Linked DNA regions of Homo sapiens: region 2 is linked to region 1. The links come from fine-mapping of genetic effects on gene expression. A gene starts in region 1. The other region holds a variant in brackets. All regions are shown on one strand. Distances are between the middles of the regions.

What was found.
Region 2: its variant is fine-mapped to the expression of C12orf60 in thyroid (GTEx, PIP above 0.99). The same link has a PIP of 0.9 or more in atrial appendage, breast, left ventricle, lung, subcutaneous fat and sun-exposed skin.

The regions. Positions count from the first base shown.
Region 1 is chr12:14,801,422-14,806,807 of GRCh38, reverse strand. It overlaps C12orf60 (chromosome 12 open reading frame 60), which reads right to left and starts at 3,138. Exons shown (of 2, transcript NM_175874.4): 1 at 3,057-3,138. It overlaps WBP11 (WW domain binding protein 11), which reads left to right and starts at 3,330. Exons shown (of 12, transcript NM_016312.3): 1 at 3,330-3,456; 2 at 5,380-5,386. SMCO3 (single-pass membrane protein with coiled-coil domains 3) reads left to right here. Exons shown (of 2, transcript NM_001013698.2): 2 at 112-2,158. The coding sequence starts at 128. The coding sequence ends at 805. RefSeq lists an enhancer at 2,795-3,034.
Region 2 is chr12:14,830,824-14,836,209 of GRCh38, reverse strand. The region is part of intron 2 of ART4 (ADP-ribosyltransferase 4 (inactive) (Dombrock blood group)); the gene reads left to right. Among named protein-coding and RNA genes, the nearest start is that of ART4, 10 kb to the left of the region's middle. The variant C/T (reference allele first, on the strand shown) is at 2,437.

The sequences.
Region 1 (5,386 bases):
AGCATCTTGCTTCTTTGCTATGCATGAAGAAAAAGATTTCCTAGTCCCTTCTACACAGTTAGCAGACATTTTTTAAGACTTTCAGTAAAAATTTACCATTTTATTTTTCAGCGATCATATTGGAAATATGGCCCAAAGTGACTTCCTTTACCCAGAGAACCCAAAAAGGCGGGAAGAAGTAAATCGTCTTCACCAGCAGCTTCTTGATTGCTTATCTGACAGCTTCGATGTCACCAATAAGCTGACTGAGGTTCTAAATATGCACTTGGGGTGCAGGCTGGCCTCCATTGAGATGAAAAGAGATGGGACCATCAAAGAAAACTGTGACCTCATCATCCAAGCCATTATGAAAATCCAAAAGGAATTGCAGAAGGTTGATGAAGCACTAAAAGATAAGCTAGAGCCAACCCTCTATAGAAAACTTCAGGATATTAAGGAAAAGGAAACAGACAAAATTGCAATAGTGCAAAAGGTTATTTCGGTCATCCTGGGAGAAGCTACATCTGCAGCCAGTGCAGTCGCTGTTAAACTTGTGGGCTCAAATGTCACAACTGGCATAATTAACAAGTTGGTCACTGTGTTAGCTCAAATTGGTGCTTCTCTCCTTGGTAGTATTGGAGTTGCTGTTCTTGGCCTTGGCATAGATATGATTGTCCGTGCCATCCTGGGAGCAGTGGAAAAAACACAGCTTCAAGCAGCCATCAAAAGTTATGAGAAGCATCTGGTGGAGTTCAAATCAGCCTCAGAAAAATATAATCATGCCATTACTGAGGTCATCAATACAGTGAAACACCAAATGAAATGAACAGCCGTTTTATTTGCCACTGAAGTGTTTTTCTGCTTCCTTTTCAGTAACAGTGTTTGCTTCTTTGATTAGGTTCATTTTCTATAGGCTTCCAATATGGACTTAAATAAGATAAACAATTTGGAGAGGGAAACTGGAGATGCCAAGACTAGATGACTAGATGAGTTTTGAGTCAACAATGCCTGGATCAGCTGATGCTAGACCCTGTGAGGTAAAAAAATTTTCTCCCTGGATGTTTTCACACCCTGCTCTACCAGATCAACATTGGGGTAAATGCTATCGTAGAGTAGCAAGTATAGGGGTTACTTTTCTCTTTTCTAATTTCAGTAAAATTCTTAAATTTCACATTGAATGCAGAGACTTTCATTTCTACCACCAGCTTCAAACATCATTTAGTTATAAGGGGACATACTCAGTAACTTCTGCCTAGACACAAACTCTAGGCCTTCGAATGAGACAGAAATACTACCATATTTTTGACCATCAGAGTAAATCTGGTTTTCTGTAAACTAGAAGAGACTGAAAAATGGTTTGTAACAATGTGCTTCAATTAGGACAGGAAGCTGATCTGTAAACGTCTACTGATTACACAATGTAAACCGGATGGATTTGAAAATGGTAAAAATCAAAACTAAAAACATCAAGGTCCTGTTTCAGTCACTGCAATCAACCCTGACCAACTGTGATAATTAAATATCGCTCAAGTGAATGTTCAAACACTGAAACATTTAGAAGACAAGAAAGCAAAACACAGCTACACATATTGCATTTAGGATGCAGAATAGAAGGTCACTACTCAAAGCATTTGTCATTTAAAAGAAAGTCATAATTTATTATAAGCTTTCAGAAAAAAGAATATAATTTCATTTTCAACACTAGCAAAAAGGAGGCAGCTGCCTTTGCTACATGACGCATTAGGTGGGCCATTTCACTAATTACCTGATTTTAGAAAACGCCAAAGGCTATGGAAGCCTATTAATGGTTCCGCTGAATCTCTGCAGATGTGTTTGTTTTCTAAATCCTTTGCCAACCAATAATTCCCATGAGGACTCTTTTAGTCTATACTGACAAAATTATTAATATGCTGTTGATGCCAGACTGTGTTTGTTATAGTTGATTCTCCCATCCAAGTACAAGAAATGTATTGAAATAAAAACTGCTCAGCATATCTTAAAAATAGTAGCTACATATAAAATTTTAGCTACATGAAAGACTTTAATATTTCCAACATACACTGTTTTCTCTTTCTCTTCTTGCATTGTTTTTCAAAACGAGTTGCAAAACTATGATCACTAATGTGTTAGGAAAGAAAAAAAACTAGTTGCAAAACATTACAACTTAGCTCACCTTCGCAGTTCAAGATTATTTTCTTTTTTATGTACTACCTGGTTTATCAGCTTTAACCTACAATATCTCGTCATTGCTTTCTGACACTCAAATTCAGTCTAAAATCAAATCAAGAATTTCCTAACACAAAGGTAAGTTTAGGTATAGGACCGATCTTATACCTTCAAGGGCAGTTTAAAGATTCTGCTAAAAATTAGTATGTATCTCCATCAATATTTTGAAATATTTATAACTGGTGGTAAGAATAGCCTTCCTACATGGGATAGTCAGGTTAAGATTAGAAATAACCAAGCGTATCCTCTAAGATAGTTTTTTAAATGTTTAAACTTACCTTTAAGGGAAATAAGTGGGGGCTGACTCACGGAAAGAGGGGATAGAAGGTAGGGAAAGGGCGAAGGCTAGAGTTAAGTGAAGAATCCCGTACGTAGAGTGACATCATAGAGGACTTTTGGCTGGTGAAAAGACCAGTCGGGAATATAGCCAATATATATCAACCTTGCCACTCATATAACTTAAAACCGACTGCATATGTATCCCCGTATTTCTTCTTCAAAACACTACTAACAAATAATAAATCACCGCCCATATAAGCAATCTGCGACTCTAATACGGGTGCTAATTTATTTGTTCAGGTGGTCTACAAACGTTCTGTTCTGCCTGTCTATTAAATTTCCACACGTACTAGGCGCTCACATGGGATAACCTGATGCTTACAAAGCGGATTAAACTCAGTGGCAAATGTTATCTGGGTATTCGTTTACACACGGAGACACCCCTAAAGGATCGCACCTGCTTGGGTCATAAGAAACAGAAAAATGCAAAAACTAAGGTAATTCCAAAAGACAGAAAACGCAGAACGCTTCTTTATCTGCAGAATGTACCGTTCTCGGACGGCTCAACGTACCAGGCTCCCAGCAACTAAGTCAAGATGCCTCCAACTCGAGAGACAGGACCGTCAGCCACTCAGTTAGCAGCTATCTTCTTCTAATTCCTATTGTACTAGATGAGCGCAATGAGGCGGGCTCTTAGCCGACAACCAACCAATTGAGTATTGTATGGAACCGGAAGAGACTCTGGTCCTGGAATTCTTGGGTATTCTCTATGGTTCCAGGGTCAAGCGGCGCTAAGAGAAGGCGGGACAGAGGAATGGGAAATGACGTGAGGAGTGCGGAGGGGCGCGAGGTTTCAAGATGGCGGTAGCTGAGGGGTTGACCGAGAGACCCAGTTGAAGGCCTTTACGAAGTGAAAGAGGCCGGGAGTCGCCCCCTACCCGCTTCTCGTAGTCCTGGGAGCACAGCAGAAGTGTGAGTGTATTGAATTGATTTACTACTCTTCCTCACCTCTTTCGTCCCTTCCACGTCCCGCGCAGCGGCTTGGGGGACACCCAGCCCCTTTGCCCCGCTCCTCCTCTCCCTGGTTGAGGTCTCCCTGTTGCGGACTGGGCTATTCCTGGGCCTGGGGTGGCGCGGCGACCAGTGGTTGCGCGGTTGGCATCGCCCGGGTCGGTTGGGGCCGCTTCTTACGCACGTTGATTAGTAGCCTTAGGTTTGACGTCTTGTACCTCGAGTCATGGTCGGTCAGCCGTCGCTATGGTTTCGTCAGTTGCTGGTGTTGCCTCCTTTGGTGAACCTGGACCCTATCCCATTGAAGCTTCTTTGGCTGTTTAGAGTTATCCAACGCTTATTTGGCTTGATTTTCCAGTCGCCTCCGCTTGTAGACAAAAAACTAATCTGCAGACTTAAGCTCCAGTGTCTTCCGTAAAATTCTCTGTAATTCGTATCCGTTGTGTTTCATTTGTGGGGGAGGAGATTCAGAACATGAGCCTGAGGAAACTTGAGAAAGGAAAGCACAAAAAACGCAGGCAATCAAAGATGGGAGAGCTTGTATATGTACTGATTTTGCTTGTTTTCCTCCTTCCCTACCTCCTACTCCCTGCTGCTCTCCCACCCCCCTAACCCCCCCATCCCCAGTTTTTCTTAGAAGGAAACCACTTGACAGGGTGTATGGTAGCTAGGCCAGGAATATGGATCCATTATAAAGATTTTAGTTAAGTAGTGAGTCAAACATCACAGGATATTTTATTTGTAATCTCATTGTATCATCAGAGCTTTGTTATAAAGTAATTGATGTCCCCATTTTTTAGATGAGGAAGCTAAAAATCAGAGCCTTTGATACCGCTGTCTTGAAGTAATTGCCACCAGAACAGCTGTGAAACATCTGGCTTTCTGAAACATCTGGCTTTCGGGGCAGTTGGACACTTGGTGAAAGAGACATTAACTGTAATAAACTGGGCTGACAAAATCTTCCCTTTCTTACCTTTAAAAAGTGTCTACTTGCAAAAGGAAGCAAATTTGTCCGCCTTTATTACTGGAAAGACTGCGCTTCAAAAAATTAAGCCCCATTATTTTGGAATAAGAGGAAGAAGTCATGTAATAGGGTACTGTGTTAATAAAAGTTTTAGCTTACAAAATATTTTTTCCTCAAACAAAAATAAGTATTCCCTTTAATTACCTTAAGAAATATATATTGGGAGTCAGGTCTTAGTAAGAAAAATATGTGTCTTAATATTTAAGTTTTGGGGAGCTCTCAGTATAGCACTAATTTCAAATATTTGCATTTTTAGTTGTGTTTTGAACTCTTGAGAGTCAAGCATTATATCTGAACTAGAACTGAATCTGAATTAAATATGCTTAAATTAATGAGTTTTTAGTGTCTTAGAAGTATTGAGAATGTACAGCATACATGCCAAGAAAAACCATGGAGAGAGGCAAAGGTGAGGTATGTGTTTTGAGCCTAGATCCATTACCCCCATTCCCTTCTTATTCTTCTTTTACAATTACATGTTAATAAAGGGAGGTTATAGAAGAAGGACTAATGAATTCTGATGTTCATGGTTTGTGCCATATCGTTAAAGCATTTTCTAGTTGTTTTTATCAGTTGACAAAGTCAGTGCTGTGATCCATAAGAAAAAAGCTAAACTGATGACTTGAGGATATTCAAAGTGGTCTTCACACTCATCACATTTCTGAAGAATGATAGAGATCTAAATTTTCATGGTCAAGAAAGGTGATGCCATCTTTCTTGGACATTAAAGTCAAAACTAAGGAAAGAACAGTCTCACAGAATTTCTAATTAAAGGAATTTTTTTTCAGAGATTGGTAGGGACTAGAAAAAGGAAGAAATACATTTAGGAGATATAAGCTATTTCTTTGTCTTCACCTTCACAGGTTTTTC
Region 2 (5,386 bases), 29 kb before region 1:
TGTATGCTGAGGTTGCTAAGATCTACTGTAAAAATGAATCTTCTACCTGTGGAATTGTGAAGAAGGAAAAAGAAATTCATGCTAGTTTTGCTGCCACACTTCAAACTTTATCATTGATGATATATATATATATGTATATACATACATACACATATGAAAATAACATAGGGTTCACTACTACCTGTAGTTTCAGGAATCCACTGAATGTCTTGGAATGTATCCACTAAGGATAAAGGGACACTACTGAATACAGTCTTGGACAGGACACAATATCTATCTCTTATGATTTAAAAAATGTTTGATTGCCAGCCAGGTGCAGTGGCTCACACCTATAATCTCAGCACTTTGGGAGGTCGAGGCAGGTGGATCACAAGGTCAGGAGATCGAGACCAGCCTGACCAACATGGTGAAAGCCGTCTCTACTAAAAATACAAAAATTAGCCAGGAGTGGTGGCACGAGCCTGTAATCCCAGCTACTCAGGAGGCTGAGGCAGTAGAATCACTTGAACCCAGGAGGCAGAGGTGGCAGTGAGCCAAGATCGCGCCACTGCACTCCAGCCTGGGCAACAGAATGAGACTCCGTCAAAAAAAAAAAAAAAGTTTGATTGCCTTCAGAATGTTTTCAGTTATTCGCTACAGTGTTGTTTGTTTGTTTCTTTGTTTCTTTGTTTTTCTCTCAATCAGTAAGCGAAGGAACATCAGAAAGGTCCTTAAAGTGATTTATTTTAACTGATAAGTAGTACTTACCCCAACATTCTGGAGCAGTATTGGACTGAGCCATACATGAACAATAAGAGGAAGGAGGTAGTGTGTCTTTCTTATCTGGGATCCTTAACAGGGAGGAAGTAAGATCAGTGGACTCTCCCCAGACCCAACTTTCTAGATAGCTACCATTTCCCACTTCACTGCTCCACTAACCCCAGCCTAGGGAATTCACAGATGGTGTTCTGGAACACTGATATCTAACTCCTCACGAAACTGTAATCTTCTCTGGACACTATTTCTCATTCTTTCAGCTTCGTTTTGTTTCATGAGCAGGAGCCACAAGCTATTCTGTGTCCCCAGAAGTCCCTATAAGCCAAGTGAATTATGTTTTCTCTCCTGTTCCCTCTCAATCTGACAGACGTGATACTGGAAAGACCACTTGAAGACCTTTAAAATTACCCAGCAGCATACTGTAATTCTCCCAAAGAAGAGACAGTATATTTAAGAGCATAGCTTCTCCAGTCCTTCAATTTATGCTAAAATCAGTCCTGTTAGCATGTAACTCAAGTTTAAAGAGTTTCCAGGAATCTGTTGCTTTTAGAGAGACAAGAGATCAAATTAATAGAATTATACTATTTAAGGAAGTAAATTTGCAAAAGGAAAAATTGTCATTCTAAACTAACAGCTTTCCTCTCTAATTATTCCATCACCCCTCACATGACCTGTACTGGTTGCCATAGAAACAGGTGTCTTCATGCCCATTGGAAGACTCAAAATATGTTAACAGAATGTTAGTTATTTGCCCTTAAATCTTGCTTCTTTCAGCAAAATAACCTATGCCAAAAATCTGTAGACACACAAATACATGCTCTGTTCTATATCATTGGATTCACAAAGAACAGGGATTTATTTGTTAAAATGTTTCACATAATCAAAATTCTTAACATGTTTCTAGAGAAATATAGGCAATTGTTTGTAGTCAGCCTGGTTTTACATGTAAACTTCACTTTTTAAAAACCTGTACGATTCTAGTGGGGAGAAAATGAATGAATGCATGTAAAATCTCTTAGAATAGTATCTGACAAATGTTAAGTACTCAAAACTTTTAAGATACTATTATCATTATTATTATTTATTTTATTAGCTTTCTATTTTGCCTGTTTTCTTTTACTCTGGGCTTCAATTATCTAAAATTAGTTTACCCTATTTGTGGCATCACAATGACCTTGAAGTAGAGTGTCTGTCTCAGATAAATGGATGAAAGAATGAGTCATTGAATAAATCTGGGAGACCACACGGCATGGTGGAAAGTGAATAAACTTTGGAGCCAGAAAGATTTGGGTATATGTTAGTAGCTAGGTGACCTTGTGCAAATGACTTAACCTCTGAGCCTGTTTCTTCATTTATAAAATGGAAGTGATACTCATCTTGTGGGAATGTTGTGATAGCATTGGTGTCTCTGCCTCCTTTCAAACACAACTGAGAAACTCTGGGAAAGTACTTTGCACATGGAAGTGGGATAATGGTTTAATGGCACAAGCATGTGCTTCAGTGAAATTGATAGTAAGAAGAGAAACAAAGGAAGAGGCAGAAGGAATAACGCTTTTCATTTTCGGGTGCTAAGTTTTTGCTAGGTAATATTCTACAATATTAACACTCTTGCTCCTTGCATTTTGACAGAAAGAGGCTATAGATAGCATTTGCCTCAAACACTAGACTTGGTATACTGCA[C/T]GTCAGCTTTACCTTTTTCTGTTTAAGGACTATTTACTTCTGAACAGTCTGATAAAATTCAGATTCAGACTTCATGAAATAAAAGTTATAATCATTATGTATTTCTTCCAGACTTTATACCCTAAGGCAGAGATGACCAAAATCAGGTTATAATACACTGATAAAATGATATTTGTTTGGCAGTTTAGTTTACAAAACGCTTGGACACCCATTATCTGTTTAGTTTTCACAATCACCCTGTAAGTCAGGTTATTGACTCCGCTGTACTGATGTGAATGCTGAGATTCAGAGAGCTTAAGGGATTTGCGTAAAATTATTCATAGTTTACAAATGACAAAAATAGGATCCTTCCCCATGTTTTCTAATAAGAATTCCAGGACAATATTCTCCATAGACTGGTTTCAGGGGATTCATCCATTCTTCAACAAATATAGCTGAGAAACTACCGTTAGTTTTAAGCTTCTTGACTATGACTGTTTACATTATAAATCAGTTCACACACACATAAATATGCAAATACACACATATTCATAAAATACAACAGTTACCCTTTTCATAGGCAGTGTTAATGCTAGTGTTTCTATTCTAACTTATTTTATTACATTATTAAACAATGATGGCTATGACCTCCTAAGCTGATGTCACAACCCATCAATTGATCACATTCTCCAATTTTAAAAATCCTGTAAAAAGGTAAAGAGAAAATTAAAAACTTTGAAGAGATAGTTGAATAGAAAACTAAAGACAACTACAAAAGTAAAAAAAATGTGAGGTATCCTCAAATAAAACTTTAGTTTGTAATTAATGCACAGCTGTCTTTCATTTATTTTCCTAAATATATGGTCCATGTAACAACAATAATAATAATAATGCCAGGTAGAAATGATAATGGCCATAAAAGAGGTAGAGAAAAAGTATCAACAGAGTTAGTTACTTTAACCTGACATAATAAAATCAAAAGGAAGCTATTTTTAACATCCTAATTATTATAAAGAGGACTTATGAATTTTTTTGAAGAATGACTATGATTGCAAGACAGTAGTGTCTATGTGTTTGTCTCTTATTTGGGTATCATCATAATAGCAGCTATTATTCATTCATTCAACAAATCAGTATTTATTGGTCACTTGTTATTTGCTAGGCACTATCCTAGGTGCAGGGAAGGAAATAGGTGAAAATCCCTGCCCTTGGGGATTTACATTCTATTGATGTGAGGCAGAAATAAACAAAATAAATAAGTAAATTATGTCGTAGTTAGTAGGTGGTACATACTAAGATGAAAAATAAAGCAGAGTAAGGAGACAGTGAACACTATGGGAAGGAGTGGCAATATTAAACTGGGTGATCAGGGGAAACTTCACTGAGAGGGTGACATTTGAGCCAAGGTTGAAAGGAGATGAGAGAGCCAGTCCCATGTATATCTGAGGAAAGAGCATTCCAGGAAGAAAGCACAGCAAGTGCAAATGTCTCAAGTAAGAAGCAACAGCAAGGATGCCAGTGTACGGGAATGAGAGAAAAATAATAGAAAGCGAAGACAGAAGATGATGTAGATTCGATCACATAGGACCTTGAAGGCAGTTGTAAGGACTTTGGCTTTTCCTCTTAGATAGGATACCACTGAGAGGTTTTGGGCAGAAAACATAGAAGATTGTGTCAAAACTGACCTAGCAGCCCAGTAGAGGATAAACTGTAATGAGGTAAGCAGAGAAACCAAGTAGGGGGCTATTTCAATCATTCAGTTGAGAGATGAAGGTGGTAGAGTGGAGGCAGTAAGGTTTGACCAGATTCAGAGCCAAAAGGAGGTCCTGACACACTGGAAGTGAAAAGTGAGGGAAAAAGAAGAGTGAAGAATGACTCCAAGGTTTGGCTAGAGTAACTGAAAGGATGGAGGTGGCACTCACTGAGATGGAGAAGCCTGGGGATGGAGTAGATTTAAGAGCAGGAGTTTGGTATTTGACATGTTATATCTGAGCTGTGCAATAGTAACCCAAGCAGAGATGTTGAGTGGACAGTTGATGCACAAGTGTAGAATTCCGAGTGACCCAGGATGGAAAGATAAATTTGAGGTCAGTGGGTTATGGGTGGTATTTAAAGCCAAGAGACTGGATGAGCTCCCCACAAAGGTGTATAAATAAAGGAGAGAAAATGTCCAAGGATCAAACCTCAGGACACTCCCATTTTAAAAGGTCAAGTACAAAGAAGATGGAGAGGCCAGGTGTGATGGCTCACACCTATAATCCCAGCACTCTGGGAGGCCGAGGTAGGTGGACTGCTTGAGCTCAGGAGTTCGAGACCAGCCTGGGCAATGTGGTAAAACCCCGTCTCTACCAAAAATACAAAAAAAAAATAGCCAGGCATGGTGGTGTGCACCTGTAGACCCAGCTACTTGGGAGGCTGAGGTGGAAGAATCACTTGAGCTGATGTTGCAGTGAGCAGAGATCACACTGCTGTACTCTAGCCTGGGTGACAGAGCAAGACCCATCTCAAAAAAAAAAAAAAAAATGGAGAAGGAATGGCCAGTGAGGGAGGAGAAAATTGATAGAGTTGGTGTCCTAAGAGCAAAATGAAGAGTAAGTATCAAGGAGGATGGAGTGATTCACTACCATAAATATGGTTGATAGGTCAAATACAGTGAGGACTGAGAATTGACATTACATTCCAGGAAGCTCAACATATAATCTCTTAAATCAGACTCTCTAGGTTAAATACTGGCTCTGTCACTTACTGTGTGGCCTAACAGAGACCCTTAAGCTCTCTAAATACTGGGAAAGGGTGGGACTGGAAATCCTTGTGATCTTTAGCCTCAGTGAAGAGGAAAAAAAAACAAAAATCGTTTGAGAACCATTCTAATGATTGACCTGCTAAAGTGGTATTAAGGCTTCCTAAGTCTCTGTAGGGATTCATATAATTTGATTTTAACACAAACTTTGACAAAAGTTTAGAAAGACAT